2 separate regions of the Homo sapiens genome follow, and region 2 is linked to region 1. Evidence: fine-mapped expression QTL. Tissue or cell type: tibial nerve. Region 1 holds a variant in brackets; the other region holds the start of a gene. All regions are shown on one strand. Distances are between the middles of the regions.

Region 1 (8,174 bases):
ACTAAACAATCGGCCTTGGCCGTGAGCGCAGCGCAATTCCAGATGCCGCGTCCCTCGCGCCGCGCGCTAATTGGGCCGCGGGCGCGAGGCTCTGTCAGCGCCAGTAAGGCCCTGCCCAGGGCGGCCTTGGCCGGGCGCCCGCCCGCTGGGCTACCTAAGGCGGGGGCAGGGTGGAGAGATGGAGGGGAATAGTGGGGCGGGGGGGGGTACGAAGGAGGGAGAGAGAGGAGGGAGGAGAGGAGGAGGAAGACGAGGAGGAGGACAGAAGAAGACACAGTGAGACAGGCCACGAGACAGCGTCAGCTTGAGACAGAGAAACACGAAGAGGGGCAGACAGAAAGGGACAGAGACATTCTCAGAGAGATAGCTTCAGAGACAAAGAGAAAGCCAGAAGCACTGAGCCATATTCAGATTCAGAAGGAGACAGAGAAGGTAGAGAGGGAGAGAGACCACAGAGATTTGGAGTAACAGAGGCAGGGCAGACTGACACGAGAACAGAATCAGGAGAGACCAAGACAACGAGAAGGAAACCAACGTGGACGCGGCCGGGAAGAACGCAGGCGGTGGGAGCACAGGAGACGCTCATGTTTACCACCGGGTCGCAGCTGCCTGATGGGTGTCTAACCCCTTTTGTTTTATAGTACCTCCTCCCTTTACATTCTCACTTTTTATCATTCTTCCTAGACCCGGGCGAAGCCGGGAACTGAGCCCACCCGCGCGGTGATCCATTCCTAGTCTGGCTGGGGGACTGCGTAGAGAAGGAACCTGAGCCGTCGAGATTTCACTCCTAAGCCTGGGCTTGGGGACAGGGGTTCGCCCTGGACACTGCGGGAGGGTGCGGGATGGGGCTCCGTGGGGATTTGCCTAGAGGCAGGGGATGCCCCAAATGACCCCTGTAGGGCCCGCCCCCAGGCAGCCACCTCGGCAGCACCCTCCTTTCCTATGCGCCCTGGGGCCTCTTCAGCTCTAGAGACAGGAGGATGACTCAACACAGGTTAGTCAAGACCCAGGGCAGGGAAGCCCACCGGGGACCACCCGGGGGAGCCCCCCAGCCTCGCGTTCTGCCCCCGCTGGGAGGCCCGGGCGCCCCGGGGGTGAGGGCGGAGGGCAGTGCGGCGGCCCGGCGGCTCTTGGCGGCCCCTCTCTGACAATCTTTCCTTTGTTTGTTTTCTTAAATCTGGGAGGCCCGAATTCCTGCCGGATTCCGTAGGTTTCACTCAGGAAGGAGGCGCCCCCACCCCCACCCCCTCTCACGTCGGACTCGGCTGCAGGGGGAATGGCAGGTTCTTCCCGGAGGCCAGCGGCGCGCAGCCCCACGGCCCGGGCAGGGCGAGCGGGTGCCCGGCGCGGCGGAGAGTCCCGGGCGCCCTTCCCGCGCGCGCCACCGCGCAGCCCCGCCGGAGGGCCGCGGGCAGCCTCGGCAGAGAAAATTACAAGAAAAAAAAAATCAAACCAGGAGCGCTTTAAAACACACAAAGAGTAGCCCTCCCTCCACCCAGCTTCATTCCACACCCCATCCACCTCTCACACTCCCCCACCCCTTTTTTATTTTGGTCTCCAAACTTGAGCCTCATTAATTTCCAAAAAAAATTTCCCCCAATAAAAGGCAAACATGGAAAGAAAAACAAACTATTAGAAAATAGAGGAGGGAGGAAATGTTATTTAAAAGGTTAGCAGACCGCATCATTTTCCAATGATATTATATACTCCCAGCAGTATCCAAAATATATATGGGCCCTGGGCCAAGAATGTAAAAAAACTTTTTTTTGAAAAAACCCTTACTTAGACACAACATCTGGACCGGAGAGCGAACAAACCCCCCATTTATCACACTTAATCCTCCAATGAAGCAATCGACAGTTGACTTCTGTTTTGCTAATTTAGTTGCTTTCAAGCGCCGGCCCAGTCCAGACCGGGAATTAAGTGTCACTTGCGGAGGGCCTGCCCTGCCCCCGGCCGTCTTCGCTCCCTCCCGCGCCCAGGCTCTCGGATAGGGAAAAAAGGCCATTAATGAAGAAAGAAACTTTTTACGAATTCCCTTTACCCCCGCCCACTCGGGTCAGTGAAAACCTCGACTGTGACCTAGCTCTGTCCCCCGCCCAGTACCCGACACCCACTTCCTTGGCAGCCACGCCCCCACCCGCCAGCTGCCTCCCCCCAAGACTCGGTGGAGCAAGGCCTCAGCAGGCACAAACTCTTGCAGCTCCAGGAGGTCACCCAGCTCACCGCCTTCTCCGCGGGTTGGCTAGGTGTTGTCATCCTCGTACCTGGCACTGCCTGGTGGCCTGGCAGCTTGACCCTTAGGCCTGGAGAAGGCAGGGGAGGGTCGTGGTGCTTGGCGGTAGGGAGCTTCCATTACCCTCGCCCCGGAAGTGGATGAGAGGCAGCAGCTCCTGAGGTGGAGGCCCTTGGCCAGCAGTGTCCAGAGACAATGGGATCTTGTGAGATTGCAAGCGGGAGAGAGAATAAATCAGGGAAAGTGTATCATTTGAGGATTAGTCAATAAATCCCTGGGACCCTGGCCCAGTGGGGCTGGTGCCAGAGGCAGGGCTGGCCCCAAGTGCAGACTTCCTTCCTCAGCAACCTTCCCTTCCCTTCCCAGAGGCCTCCTGGGTCTCTCTCTCCTCACCTCTCTCTGTCCATCTCCATGGCTCCTCTCCTAAACTTTGGAGCCCAAGGCATAGCCTTTTGTCCTTCCTCTCCCCCTTGCTGGAAAAAGTTCTACAACGGAGCAGAGAAGGTTTGAAGGTGTCCTCAGGCACCTGCAAACAGAAGAGGCTGGAGAATGTGTCCCAACTCCAGCCTGCCCGCTCCTGTTCACTCTGATCCAGCCCACCCCCCAGTCCGCAGCTTTGAGCCCTGGCAGAGTCCACAGGAACAGCCTGCACTCCTAAAAGAGGCCCCCAGTACCCTGAACCCCAGTCCTCTGCAGGCTCTCATGGTGGTCTGGCTGGGCCTCAAACTTCTTGGGATGGGGCCCTGAGTTCTGGCCGCAATCCAAATGCAGTCTCAAACCTCCTGAGTCCATCCTCTAGGCCCATGGAAGCCTCGTATCTGGAGCACCCTCCATACTCACTCCAAAGGGCACTTATGAGGGCATTTAGTATATTCCAGGCAGTGTGCTAGACTCAGGACATTTGGAGACTAATGAAACTCTCTTCCTGCCCCTCCCTTGGACCTAAGCCTCTACTGGGTTTTATTTTCTGTTCATATGGGGATACCATATTACCCAGCTATACTCCTTCCATAACCAGTTATTGAGCACCTGCCATATGCCAGACACTGTTCTAGGCACTGGGGGTTCAGAGCTGAGCAAAGGCCATTTCTGCCCTCCAACTTGCCAGGGAGACAGACATGCTGACAATTAATTCCAAGACTAGGCCAAAAATAAGGGGCCATGGGAGGCATTTATAAAAGCCTCAGAGGAGGGACTGACTCACCTTGGCTGGGATAGAAGGAGGGGTGTTGGCCGAGTGCAGTGGCTCATACCTGTAATCCCAACACTCTGGGAGGCCGAGGTGGGCAGATCACGAGGTCAGAAGTTCAAGACCAGCCTGGCCAAGATGGTGAAACCCCCATCTCTACTAAAAATACAAAAATTAGCCAGGTGTGGTGGCGGGTGCCTGTAATCCCAGCTACTCGGGAGGCTGAGGCAGAGAATTGCTTGAACCCAGGAGGAGGAGGTTGCAGTGAGCTGAGATTGCGCCACTGCACTCCAGCCTGGGTGACAGAGTGAGACTCTGTCTCAAAAAAAAAAAAAAAAAAGAGGGGGGCTGTGATGGATCACAGTGTGGTGGGGGTAACCTCATCACTGTAGCTCTTAAAGCCCATCCTGGGGGACCGTACAGCCTAATGGTTAAGAGCAAATGGTGTGGTTTAACTTCCTGCTCTGCCACATCAGTTGTAGGACCTAGGGCCTCTTAGTCTCTCTGAGCCTCAGTGTCAACATCTGAAAAAATGGGACTAACAGTAGGAACTGCCTTGTGAGTCTCTGACACAGTAACATGGGGCAAGCAGCTGGCATACAGCAACCTCTGACTGAATGTCCACTTAATTAGCCTTCTTTCAAAGTATTCGAATAAACTAGCTTGTAGCCTCCTTGCCACCCTCTTCTTGTCCTCCTCCTCAACTTGAGGGCCTGGCACAGTGCTAGGCACATAGAGTAAGTGGTGGAATAAATCAATGGGTACAATAGAAAGCCCATCAAACCTTGGCTCAAGTGCTGCTAGGTAGACAAGCAGTGGGCCTGAATGTTCCATTTCTTTGTTCTGATACCTGGCCATAGGCTGGGTGGGCCA[C/T]GATGGCTGTTCTTCTTGCTCCCACATTTCCAGAAGTCAGGCAGAGTATGACCCTCTGAAGCCCCCTTTTCTCTGCTCAGTAGAAAGTCAAGAAATGTCTTCTAGCCTGGAGCCATCATTCTGTGACTCTGGTTTGGGCTGAGTCTTGACTTGCTGTGTAACCCCGGGCAAGACATGTCCCTCTCTGGGCCTTGGACTCCTTATAGGTGAAATGAGTAGGTTGGACTGGATGCTTTCCATGCTCCTCTGCAGCCTTTGTGTTTGATGTCTGCTTCTTCTTTCAGCTGGGGGAACCTCATCGTCCTTGCCAGAGCCTGCTTACCTGGAGGTGTGGTTTTGTGCTCTCCCATTTCCCATCTGCTTCTTGGCTTTTCTTTTCTTTTCTTTTCTTTTCTTTTCTTTTTTTTTTTTTTTTTTTGAGATGGAGTCTCACTCTCACCCAGGCTGGAGTGCAGTTGAGCGATCTCAGCTCACTGCAACCTCCGCTTCCTGAGTTCAAGTGATTCTCCTGTGTCAGCCTCCCGAGTAGCTGGGATTACAGGCACATGCCACCACGCCCAGCTAATTTTTTGTATTTTTAGTAGAAATGAGGTTTCACCATGTTGGCCAGGCTGGTCTTGAACTGCTGACCTCCAGTGATCCGCCCACCTTGGCCTCCCAAAGTGCTGGGATTACAGGCTTGAGCCACCGTGCCTGGCCTTGCCTCTTGGCTTTTCACTGTGGTGTCCCTGTCTTTTTCCCTTCTTGCTCCCCTCAGCTATCTTCCTCTCTTTCTCTCTCTTATTCTGTCCCAGCGTGTGAATAGTATGTGGATGAACTGATGATGCTTAACTTTCTCCTGGGCAGCTTTCCCCTCCCACCTCTACCCGGCTTCTTGACCCCCAAACACAATCTGGGCCTGAGGAGCAGACCTCTCCATCTGTCCTCTTGCCTGGGCTTCTGTCCCTGAAGACCTTGGTGGTGCCCTGACCCTTGACTTCTGACTTCTGAGAGAATGGGAGAATGGCATCCCAGCTGGACCAAGACAGTGCCTAATATGGGTCTTCTGTCCCTAGAGATGGACAGGCTTTATATTCCCTCGCCGCCCTCCCCCCAAAGTCCCAGGCTCAGGGAAGGGGACAGGAAACTTTTTCTAAGTCTAGCTGACACTCAGCCCTGGAACCCACCTCCTTCACAATGCCATCGCCCACCTCTGAAGCTGGGAGAACCCCTTGACAGATGGGCCTGAGGTTATGATCGTCACTAAGGAACCACTTACTGTCAGGAACCATTTCCAGAGAACTACTGTGTGCCAGGTACTGTGCTATGAGCCAAGAGGAGGGGTCTGTGTTGGGGTAGAAGGGACTGGGGGTGGGACAAAAGCTGGGGGGAATCCCCAAGAAGGGCATCACTGCCAAGCCTAGGGCTCGTGGGCAGAGGGTTTGGCAATGCCTGTGCGTGGGCCCAGTTGGAGTGGCACCTGAGATGGAGCCAGGCCTTGGAGGCAGGTAAACAGGACGCTGTGTGCTGGGTGTGGTGAAGGGAAGGGGGATACAGGGGCACAATGGACCATTGTGTGCTCTGGAGTTGCCTTCACTTCTGGACTCTCTACAACCCTCCCACTAGGCTGTACAAATATTGAGACATATGGAAGATGTGGTCATAGATACCAAGACAAATGGAAGATGATAGTCATCTGCTTTTGGACTCTTCTGCTCTTGCCTAGACCACAGTGGACCAAGGGGTTGTGGTGTGTGCTGCGTGGCCCCGCAGGAGGGCAAAAGGAGGGAGCATTTGGCTGCTGGGATGTGGTTGACAGAGATCTAATCAAGTCTGGTGACGGGGCTGTGGCCTCAGCTGGGCCACTAGCTAGCTGTGTCTGTCTTTAGGAAAGTCACATTACTGCTCTAACCCTCAGTTTACTCATCTGTAAGATGGGATAAGGATTACCCTTGCTCTGTCTACCTCACAGTGATGTGTGGCATTGTGACAGAGCCTTGGTTGTTGTTAAGGGGTGTACACAGGGCAGAGCTGGTTGTTCTTGCTTCTGTTGTTACTCTGCTGCAAGATCCTTTTTGCCTGACAAACCTCCCCTCTGGGTTCAGATGTAGGCAGAATTGATGGGTACCCATGTGGGACTATTGAGAGACCTAAGGACAGGAATCAGGACTTAAATTCTCTAAGTGTTCAGCCAACCAATCTTCATTCATTCATCATTCATTCAGTCAACATACATTTTTTTTGAGCTGCCTCTCTTATGTCAAGCACTTTGATGCCCTGGGCCTTTGAAGATGAATAAAGTATGTTTCTTGTCCTCAGGGAACTCCCAATCAGCTGGGAAAGGGGCTGAACACACACACACACAGCATTAACATACAATAATAACGAGTATTTATTGAGCACTTACTATGTGCCAGGAATGGTTCTAAGTACTCTATATACATTAATTCATATAATCATTTTCATTTTGAAGATGAGGAAACCAAAGCACAGAGAAGGTAAGCAACTTGCCAAAAGTCTCACAGCTAGGAAGGAACAGAACCAGGATTGACCCCAGGCAGTCTGTCTAGAGCCTGTGTTCTTAGCCAGTAACTAGTACACACAACATGCATGAACCTACACTAACAAGGGCAAAAGAATAGTAAAGAGAAGAGTGGGCTGAGCCTCTGAAGAAATGGAAAAGGAGAGGAGGGATTGGCTATAGTCCAGCTTCCACTAGGGCAGGAGAAGGTGAAACAGGCTTGACTAAGCTGGACAGATTTGCGATGTCTCAGACAGGAGGTCCTGGGATGGGTTTCCAAGGCAGGAGGCTGAGTCAGGCTTCTTTGAAGGCGGCAGAGAGCTAGTTGGGATAGATTCCCTGCCAGCCCTCTGCTTGAGGTCCTTTCCAGCCCAAAGCTCTGTGAGGGAGAACTTTGGAAGGTTCCTGGTAGGAGAGTGTGACACCTTCTCCACATATAACTTGAGTTTCCCAATTCCAAACTCCATTGGGCCCTTGCTCCTTCTCTGGGCTGTAGTGTGCTGGGAGCTGGGAGTTATTAAGTAGGACTGAGTGTGCCAGGAGATATTGCTCAGGGAGCAAGTGATGGAAATTCACCTCCAACTAGTTTAAGCAAAAGGAAGGGATTTATTGGCTCAAATAACCAGGAAGGATAGGAGTGTGTGTGTGTGTGCGTGTGCATGCACGTGCATGCACATGCATTGGGGCAGGGGGCAAAGTTTAGGGACTGCCATGCCTCAAAAGATATGTTCAGCTTTCTCTCTTGCATTCTTTCTTGATCTCATTCATATGGTGGCTATGCTTTTTGGTGTGTGATAGCCTCATCTTTTTGTTTTGTTTTGTTTTTCCTGTTGCAATTGATCTTCCTCTCTAACTGCAGTTGGGGCGTGGAGAGGGAGAGGGAGGTCAAGACTTCTCTCATCTGCTGGAGGGCAGAGAGAGGTGGGTAGAAGAGCCTGGCAGCAATTTCATGCTCACATCTCAGAAGAAAGAGAGGATTTGCTATTCCCAGCACCCTCCATCTATAACATTTTAGCGAAGAGCTCCTTTTGGCCTAGATTGGGTCATGTGCCCACCTTTTGGACAAATCAGGTGTCCAAGAAAGTTATGTTTGACAATTGGCTAGACCTGGCTCATGGGCCCACCCTGAGGCCAGAGGAGCTGGGGAGTTGTAATTGGCAGCCCCACAGAATTGCATGGAAGAGAGGAGCAGGGGTTCAATGAAGAAAGGGTTGTAGTTATCAAAAGTAGACAAGGCTGTCCACAACAACACCCTCTCTCTCCCTCCCTGGCCCCTACCGCAGAGGACAGAGGAAGCAGTAGAATAAACTTAGCACACCTTCTTGGAGCTTCCATTTTATCTCAAGATTTTGGGGGAACATTTTAAAATGACATTT
Region 2 (8,174 bases), 45 kb before region 1:
AGTTGCCTCTTCTCTCTGGACTTCGTTTTCCCAACCCATAAAATGAAGATTAATACTTCAGTATTTCCATATTCAACCAACATGTGGCCTGGCAGTGCTAGCAAATTAATAATAAACGCCATCCCTTGATCAGTACTACCATGCACCCGGCACCGTGCAAGGTACTTGACATCTGCTCTCTCATCTAACTCCCAAACAGAATCTCTAAGGTGGGTATTATGACCTACTTTACAATGTAAGAAAATTGAGGTTCGAAGAGCTTAATTAAGTTCTCCAGAGTCCCATCTCTAATGCCAAGTTCCAAAGCCTTTTCCACTCTGACACATGTTCTGCCCTGGGGAGGCCTCAGTTCCTTGCTCTGGGTTCCAGAGTTCTGGAACCAAATCTGAGGAGGTCATTCCAGCCAACGGAGCCTGAGAGTCCTGTCAAAAATAGTACCTGCCCTGCCTTGGTCTAGGGAAGCTGGAGCGTGGTAAGATCTGTGAGAAGGGAAACTGTGAGGAGTTTCTTGGATGGAAGAAATTATTATTTCACACAGTTTAGGCTATTCAAAAAATAAAGACATTGTGCCTGCTTAGGATGGGACTGGGGGGCTTGCACTGTGGCTGGAGAGACAGGAAACCGCCAAGGCAGTGGGGTAGGAAGGGTTAAGATGCAGGGAAGGCTTCCTGGGGAGACAACCCTTCCCTCCCCTTGCACCTCACAACTCTCCTCTGAAACAGACACCCTGTTCCCATTCTTCTCCCCTCCACCCTCCCCCCCACCATGTGATATCTGTCTCTCCTACCCCAACAATCTGAGGTCCAGACAGCAGACCCCAGCCTTCACTGCTTGGGTACCCCAGTACTCAGCCTGGGACCTGCCCAGGCAGAGTAGGGGCTCAGCAAACATTTGGGGGAATTACTGGATCAAAAGCAAGCCTTCCTCTCCCAGTCCCTCTGCTTCCCTCCCACCAAGGAAGAGGTATGTTTGGGGTAGGGGCCCAGCAGGATATGCACATTCCTGGCAAGAAGGGACCTACCTGCCTACAGCCAGAACGGAAGTTTTCGGCTCTAAAGGCAGAGGAAGGGGGCTGGGGGCGTCTAGGTGTGAGGAAGATCCCTACACAGAAAGGGACAGGAGCAGGTCCCTTTGCAAGTGGGACCCTTTGCAAATGCTCTGGCCCTGGCGTTCTCCAGCACTGGGGTCAGGTCTTTCTCTCTCCAGGGCTCAGGGGTTCCCCAACTCCGTAACTCCTGGGAAACCTGTCCAGGACAGGGAGAAGGACAGAAAACTCCACCCAGGCGCCCAGCCCTTGGTGCCAGGAGAGAAGGCTCCCATGGTCTCCCAAACTTAGTAGCAAGGCTGGAGCCAGGATAAAGTGGGTCCTGAGGGTCCCGTCCCGCAGGAGAGATTCAGCGCTCACCCTGGCCCTGGGTGTGGAGGCTGAGAGGGGGCAACCACAAAACCACCTCTTCCCCTTGCCACCTTGCCCCACTGACTAGAGTGTGAGTGACTCCCCCAACTCACAGTTTTTTGAGTTTCAGATCGAAAGGGCACCATGGGAGCCAACAAGCTGTCCAGGTACCAAGAGCAGAGCCCCAGTATCCTCCCTCCAGCCACCAGGTAACAGAGCCCCAAAACCCCGAGGCAAAAGTTTCTCAAGTTGAAAAAAAAAAAAAAAAAAAAAGGCCTTCAGACTTCCCCACAGCGGTTTTCCGCGGGGGCGGGCAGAGGTTTTCTGAGGCCGTGGCTCCCCTTCAGGCGGCTGGGTCCACTGGGCCTGGCCTTCGGCCCCTGCACCTACCGGCTGGTTCGCAGCAGGGGGAGGGGGTGGGGGAGAGCTCAAAATGCCCGGTGCCCGCAGGGCATGGCGGTCAGGGGGCCCTTCAGCCCTGGTTTTCTGTGGAAAGTGAGCTTCTGGGTTCGACAGTGGGACCGGCACAGACCTTCCCGCAGCTACAGGCCATACGACAACCCCGCTGCTCTTTCTTTCTGCGGGCACTCGGGCCAGTCCTAACAATTGCCCCTCAAGCTGTGTGTGCTGCCCTAACCCTCAATCCCGAACCCGAAACAGTGCGTGCTGGGACGAATCTAGGCAGGTCTCCGAAACCGGGGTGAAGATGCTGAAGTTCAGGTAAAAACCCGCATTGGCCAAAATGCTCCCGGGCTTTCTCGGGAGTCACCCGAATGGCAACTTCAGGCTCGGGTTTGGTTCTCCGGACTCCCCACCCCTATTCCCGGCTCCAGGCGCCGCGGTCAACCTGCGGGGAGACTAGACGTTGGGGTGCCAGACACGCGGTGATCTCCAGACGCCCGAAACGCCAGGCGCCGAGTGAGCGAGGAAACCAGCCGGGAGGGGGCTGGCCAGGGAAGCCGGGGAGCAAAGGAAAGAGCGGGGCGCGCTCTGGGCTCAGGGTTCCCATACCCTTTCCCCCCAACCTAGGATCGGGGTGGGACGCAGGTGTGTTCACGAGATCGCCCCAGTTGGGGGACACAGGGAATCCGCCGCCGTCTGGGCCTGTCTCAAAATCCGCATTCCGCGAAATTACCCGGTCCTTTATGGGGGCGGCCGGGACCCCAGGTCGCATTCTAGCGCCACTGGCTGTGCTCTGACGCAGCCCAAGGAAGTTTGTTTGGCGTGGATGAGGAGCCCGAGGCTGAAGCGCCGCCGGTCAGAGAGGTGCTGGGGTTGTCCAGGGGAGATACCAGACTCCTCAGTTGGGGCGGGGGGGGGTCCTGCTCGGTCACTCCGGGCTCCTTCCCTGGTGGCCTCCGGGCCCCCGTGGCCGCCCTCTCTTCCCCCCTTAAGTGGTGAAGCGGGAGCTCTCTCCACAGCGGGTGAGTAGAGGTGTCAGCCAGATCGTTTCCCCACCCTCCACCTCCGGCGCACAAATCACAGGGGCCATTTCCAGACGCTCTCAAGTCCCCAAGAAGTTTTCCGCTCTATCCCCGAGCTGACCGAGCGATGGAAAAGGGGCTGACTGGCCCTGGCACTTCCGAGGTGCGACCTCAGCAAGACAAGTCCCCTCTTCACCAGAGACGACACGGCGGGTAGGACCGCGATCCCCCGCTCTCTTGCCCCCATTTTCATCTGTCTCCGGCGCGTCCTGGGGAGTCCGGTACCGACTAGAGTTGGGGGGAGCCACTTCCCTTCCCAGCTCTGGAAAGTCTGGGCCGGGAAGTATTCTTTGTCTGACTCGGGGCGGGGAGGGGGTCGCGCCCCCGTACACCCCATTCCCAGAGGCCCGGCGGGGAGGGGGCGGGGCCCAGATTCTTGGGGAAGGGCGGGCCTCGGTGGCCTCTCCGGCCGCCCCCCTCCCCGCCCCGGCCTCCGGCTGCCCCCACTCCCGCCGCGCCACAGCCCCCACCTGTTCCCGAGGCAGCTCCGGCCCGCTGGGGCCCGGGCCAGGGGCGGAATGTCGCGGCTGCGCGGGGTCAGTGCGCCACGGCCGGCCCTGGCTGGAACAAAGTGCGCCGGCCCGGGCCCGGCTCCTCCTGGCGCCCGGCGCCCAGCGCGTCTCGGGCGGGCAGTTTGCAAACACAAAGTGAGCCAGCGAGCGGGCGAGAGAGTGCGCGAGCGAGGGAGTTGGTCTGGTCGCCCGCCCAGCCCCCACCCACGTCCCTGGGCCCGACCCGCCACCTACCTGTCCCGCCCGGCCGCTCCGTGCGGGCTCCGGCCCGTCAGCCCGCGCGGGGCATGGGGCTCGCTCCGGTCGCAGCCCGGGCCCGCCGCCGCCCGCCGGGGCTGCCCTTCCGCGCCGCCCCGCGTCGCGCAGCTCCCGGGCGTCCTCCCAGCGCGCCGGGCCGACCGCCGCGCGCCTCAACCCCGCCGGGGCATGGCACTTTGTGGGCTGCTTGGCTCGCTCCGGCTCCGCTCTTCCTTCCCGGTCCTTCCGCGACGCTCGTCAGCTCGCTCCGGCTCCCGGGCTCCCGGACCCCGGCGTCCCCGCCCCCGGCCCAGCCCTGGTTCCGGCCCGGGCTCCTCCCCGCCGCGCCGCCGCCGCCTGCGCCGCGCCCTCCTCGCGGGCTGGGGGCTCCGTCCCGGCCGCCGGCCGCCGGCCGCACTGTCCGGTCCGCAGGGACGGCGGGCTCCGGACTCCGAGGGGCTGCGACTGAGCCTGGGCTGCGAGTGGCTGCGAGCGGGCGGCGCGCGGGCGGGGCGGGAGGGGGCGGGGGAGGAGGAGGGTGGAGAGGGAAGGAGGGAGCGCGCGGAGAGCGAGGGAGGAGGGAGCGAGAGAGCAAGCGGCGGAGGGAGGGGAGACCAACTTCTAGTGCTACCATAATTCGCCTAAAGCAGGTGCAGCAACTTTCACCCCGCCTGGCAGCCCGCTGAGAGCGAGAGAAAACCACGTGCACCAAACTTTAGGGGAGGAAAAATGGGAACGTGGGGAGAAGACGTGAGGCGGCAGATCTGAAAAAGATGGTAGGTGGAGGGACCCCAGGGATTCACCCTGGCCTCGGACTAATCCTATGGGGCGCTTGCAAACCCCGGCCATCCCCTGGAGTCTGAAGGTACGGCCAAGTCCTGATCCCACACGGTTCACTGGTTCCCGGCGGGCTGCGCTCGGCGCGGGGAGTGGCCGGGGGCCCAGAGACGGAGCCAGTGTCAGGCCCGGGCCCTGTCTGGCCTCCCTCCTGCTCCCCACTGCGTGGGGGCTGGGGGTGGGCTTCCTGAGCCGAGGGTAGAAGGTGGGGAGGCCCCTTCAGGGCTTTGTGAACGGTCACCCCCTGGCGCGCACTGCCTCCCTCTGCGGAAAGGGAATTTCCCGTAAAGTGCTCTGCGAACCAGTGAAGAAGGGGCCCAAGGCCAGAGCCATGCGGGCAAAGTGAAGTGCAAAGTTGAGGCAATTATCCGGACAAATTAGATTGTAAACAAAACCCCGCGTCTCTGAACATCGCTTTTGCCCAGGGGGACTGGAGGGATTGTGGTGGTGGCGGCGATGGTGTGTTTGGGTTGGGAGGGGGAGGTCTGGGTGAGGAAATGCCCACGGCCCAAGGGGGAGGGCTGTGTTGTTAGCAGACGCACCACTCAGAGTCCCGTGGAAATCTCAATACCCGTCCCCCTCCCCGCCCCACACACGCCGGAAACATCTCCCATCTGTCTGCATGTGTTGGGGGTGGGGAGAAGTGAAGGAGGCCTCAGGGGTCCTCATGAAGTACCCCAACCCAGCTCAGTGATGCCGGGTCCCCATGACCAAGGGAGGATCCTGTTGTGGGATCAGGACAAGAAGACAGTGGCTCTTGAAGCCTCTCCTGGCCCTAAATCCTCAGGCAGGTGGACAAGAGGCTGGCATAGTATGTGAGCCCCTGTGGAGTGGGAGCTGGAAGCCTGAGGTGTGGGGTCGGAGCTGCAAGGATTGATGCTTAGTTGCCTGGGGGGAGGGGATTTCTTGGCCGTTCCAGTGGTCCTTGAAAGAAAAGGGGACCTCAGAGAGGAGGCACCCTCTTGGGTTGTTTTTCATCACTTCTGTCCCTTTTCTGCAATGTTAGTGACACCTGCACAGGTCCACATTTTATGTATTTGCCTTTTTGGGCAGGTGGGACAGGCATACTTAGGTCCTGCTGGAGCGTTTTAGATTTCTAGGTGTGAAATTGTGCAGGGAAGACTCTAAGTGCCATTTATGTGGATATCTCAGTGTCCTTTCCAGTGTGGCAACTGAGATAACCATAGCCATAAGAATAAAATAACAGCTAACATCTGAGTCGTACCACCCACCAGCCATTTAATCTTCACAGTAACCCCAGGAGGGAGATATTTGTATTATCTCCATTTTATAGAAGAGGAAACTGAGGCACAAAGAGATCAAGTAACTTGCCCAGGCTTACACAGCTGCTGGTCAGTGATGAGCCAGATTCCAACTAGAGCCACTTCAGTGAGGACAAGAAAGAAGCTCATGGTGGTCTCTGAAGCGACACTGCCTGCTTGTGGGTTAGCTGAGGGGAAGGATATTCTGGGAGAAAGAAAGCCCTTGGTAGTACTATCTGATTTACCTTCTGTTGAGGCCCAGCTCTGGTGGAAATCATGGTGTGTGGACAGCCCTAGGCCAAGCCTGGAGTGGCAAGTCCTTGTGTCAGACCAGCTGGGCCAGTGACTATGTCCTCAGTTCTCCTTCCTATCCTTCTTGCAGCAAAGGCTGAGGGTGGGGTGAGAACTAGGGGCTTTGGAGACAAAAGAGAGAATTTCTGTAGGGGGGTATTGAATGAGGTGACCTCCGAGGGGCTTCTCCAGCCCTTTTCTGGCTGGTTCACTGAATGTTTTTCCCATCCCCTTCCTGCAGCAGCCCTTGTACCTTACACATGGGCTCACTTGCCCAGAGGGATTGCCCTGGGAAATGCTTCACTTTCAGTTCAGTTTACCCCTCATCTCCAGGCCAGTTCAGTTCCCAGCTCCCTGTGAGCTACAGTGGGGGCTCAAGGCATCAAAAGACCCTGTCTTGTCTTCACCTAAAGGGCATTTTAGCGAGGAAGACAAAGCCTCCCCAAAGAAAGATACAGAACAAATGCCCCGAAATCAAAGAAGCCAGTCCAAAGCCCTTCTTCCTGGTGCAAGAGCTTCGTTAAGAAGGTTGAAAAGAGTAGCCCTTGGCTCCAAAGTGGGAGTGACCGGGAGCAGGCAGGAGGGTCCTCTTTCTGTCCTTGTTCCTTCACAGGACTCAGGGCAGGTGCAGGTGCTTTGGCGGTGGCCGGAACCAAGGCTCATGGCTTGGCCCCTCCAGGGGGGCCATAGTTAAGAGCACAGGGGCTAGAGTCAGGCAGCCTTGGGTTGAACTTCAGCGTCTGTCACTTAACCAGTGTGTGACCCAGGCAAGTTACATGATGTTTGAGTCTCAGTTAACTCACTCATCACCTCACTCATCAATTGGGAGGTTGGGAGGCCTCCTTGGGTGTTTGGGAGGGAGGATGGGCAAAACTTCTAGCCTGGTAATGTGTTCCTCACATGCTTTCCATAATTACTTATTTTCCCCTTGATGAGCTCCAGGGTCCTCACTTAAAATGACGAATGCTGACCTCACAAAACTGCAAATCATGAGTTGCCACTTATTAAATGCTTGCCAGGCAGTCGAATAACGTGCTGTTCAGCTTATCACCCCAGCAATGGTGACTCTTCTGCAGGTGAAGCTAAGAGAGGTCAAATGACTTGCTCAGTTCACATAGCTAGGAAGTAGTGTGGCGAGGACTTGCTCCCAGGTCTCCTGCTTTGAAGCAGACGCCCTTTCCCAAGGTCAGCCGCCACCCTATTGTGGAGGTGAAGTGGGCTGATGGATGAGCTTGTTCCTAGCAGCAGGCCTGATACTCAGGAGTAGGTTGGGGTGGTAGTGGTGTGTACATCTAGAAACATTTGCTTCATTCCCATGGTCCCAACAAACCTAAGCCCAGACAGTTTATGTTTCTATTATTATTATTATTATTGAGACAGAGTCTCACTCTGTTGTCCAGGCTGGAGTGCAATGGCACAATCTCAGCTCACTGCAACCTCCGCCTTCTGAGTTGAAGCAATTCTCCTGCCTCAGCCTCCCGAGTAGCTGGGACTACAGGCTCATGCCACCATGCCCTGCTAATTTTTGTATTTTTAGTAGAGATGGGGTTTTGCCATATTGGCCAGGCTGGTCTCGAACTCCTGACCTCAAGTGATCTGCCCGCCTTGGCCTCCCAAAGTACTGGGATTACAGGCATGAGCCACTACACCTGGCCAAAAACTATTTTTTAGTTATTGAGGAATAAAACTTCATCAGCATAGGCCAGGTGTGGTGGCTCACGCCTGTAATCCCAGCACTTTGGGAGGCCGAGGCAGGTGGGTGGATTACCTGAGGTTGGGAGTTTGAGACCAGCCTGACCAACATGGAGAAACCCCATCTCTACTAAAAATACAAAATTAGCCAGGTGTGGTGGCACATGCCTGTAATCCCAGCTACTCAGGAGGCTGAGGCAGGAGAATCGCTTGAACATGGGAGGTGGAGCTTGCAGTGAGCTGAGATCGTGCCATTGCACTCTAGCCTGGGCAACAAGAGCGAAACTCTGTCTCAAAAAACAAAAAACAAAAATAAAACCCACTTTATCAGCATAATACAGTAACTCCACTCCACTCCACTCCTAAGTATATGCCAATAAAAATGCATATGTACATATGTTCACCAAAAGGCATACACCAGAATGCTAGGCCATCTACTCGCATGTGCTCACTATTCACAACA

What was found. PIP is the estimated chance that this variant, and not a neighbour inherited with it, causes the effect.
Region 2: it holds the start of FOXP4, and the variant in region 1 is fine-mapped to the expression of FOXP4 in tibial nerve (GTEx, PIP 0.91).

The regions. Positions count from the first base shown.
Region 1 is chr6:41,497,067-41,505,240 of GRCh38, reverse strand. It overlaps LINC01276 (long intergenic non-protein coding RNA 1276), which reads right to left and starts at 2,797. Exons shown (of 3, transcript NR_120347.1): 1 at 2,630-2,797; 2 at 2,268-2,438. LOC112267957 (a long non-coding RNA gene) reads left to right here and starts at 240. Exons shown (of 3, transcript XR_002956346.2): 1 at 240-994. RefSeq lists a silencer at 1-113 and enhancers at 294-393, 1,097-1,844, 1,845-2,592. The variant C/T (reference allele first, on the strand shown) is at 4,299.
Region 2 is chr6:41,542,320-41,550,493 of GRCh38, reverse strand. FOXP4 (forkhead box P4) reads right to left here and starts at 4,113. Exons shown (of 17, transcript NM_001012426.2): 1 at 3,627-4,113. It overlaps FOXP4-AS1 (FOXP4 antisense RNA 1), which reads left to right and starts at 1,873. Exons shown (of 2, transcript NR_126415.1): 1 at 1,873-2,116. RefSeq lists silencers at 2,797-2,946, 3,237-3,416, 3,487-4,166, 4,497-4,766, 5,809-6,103 and an enhancer at 4,317-4,426.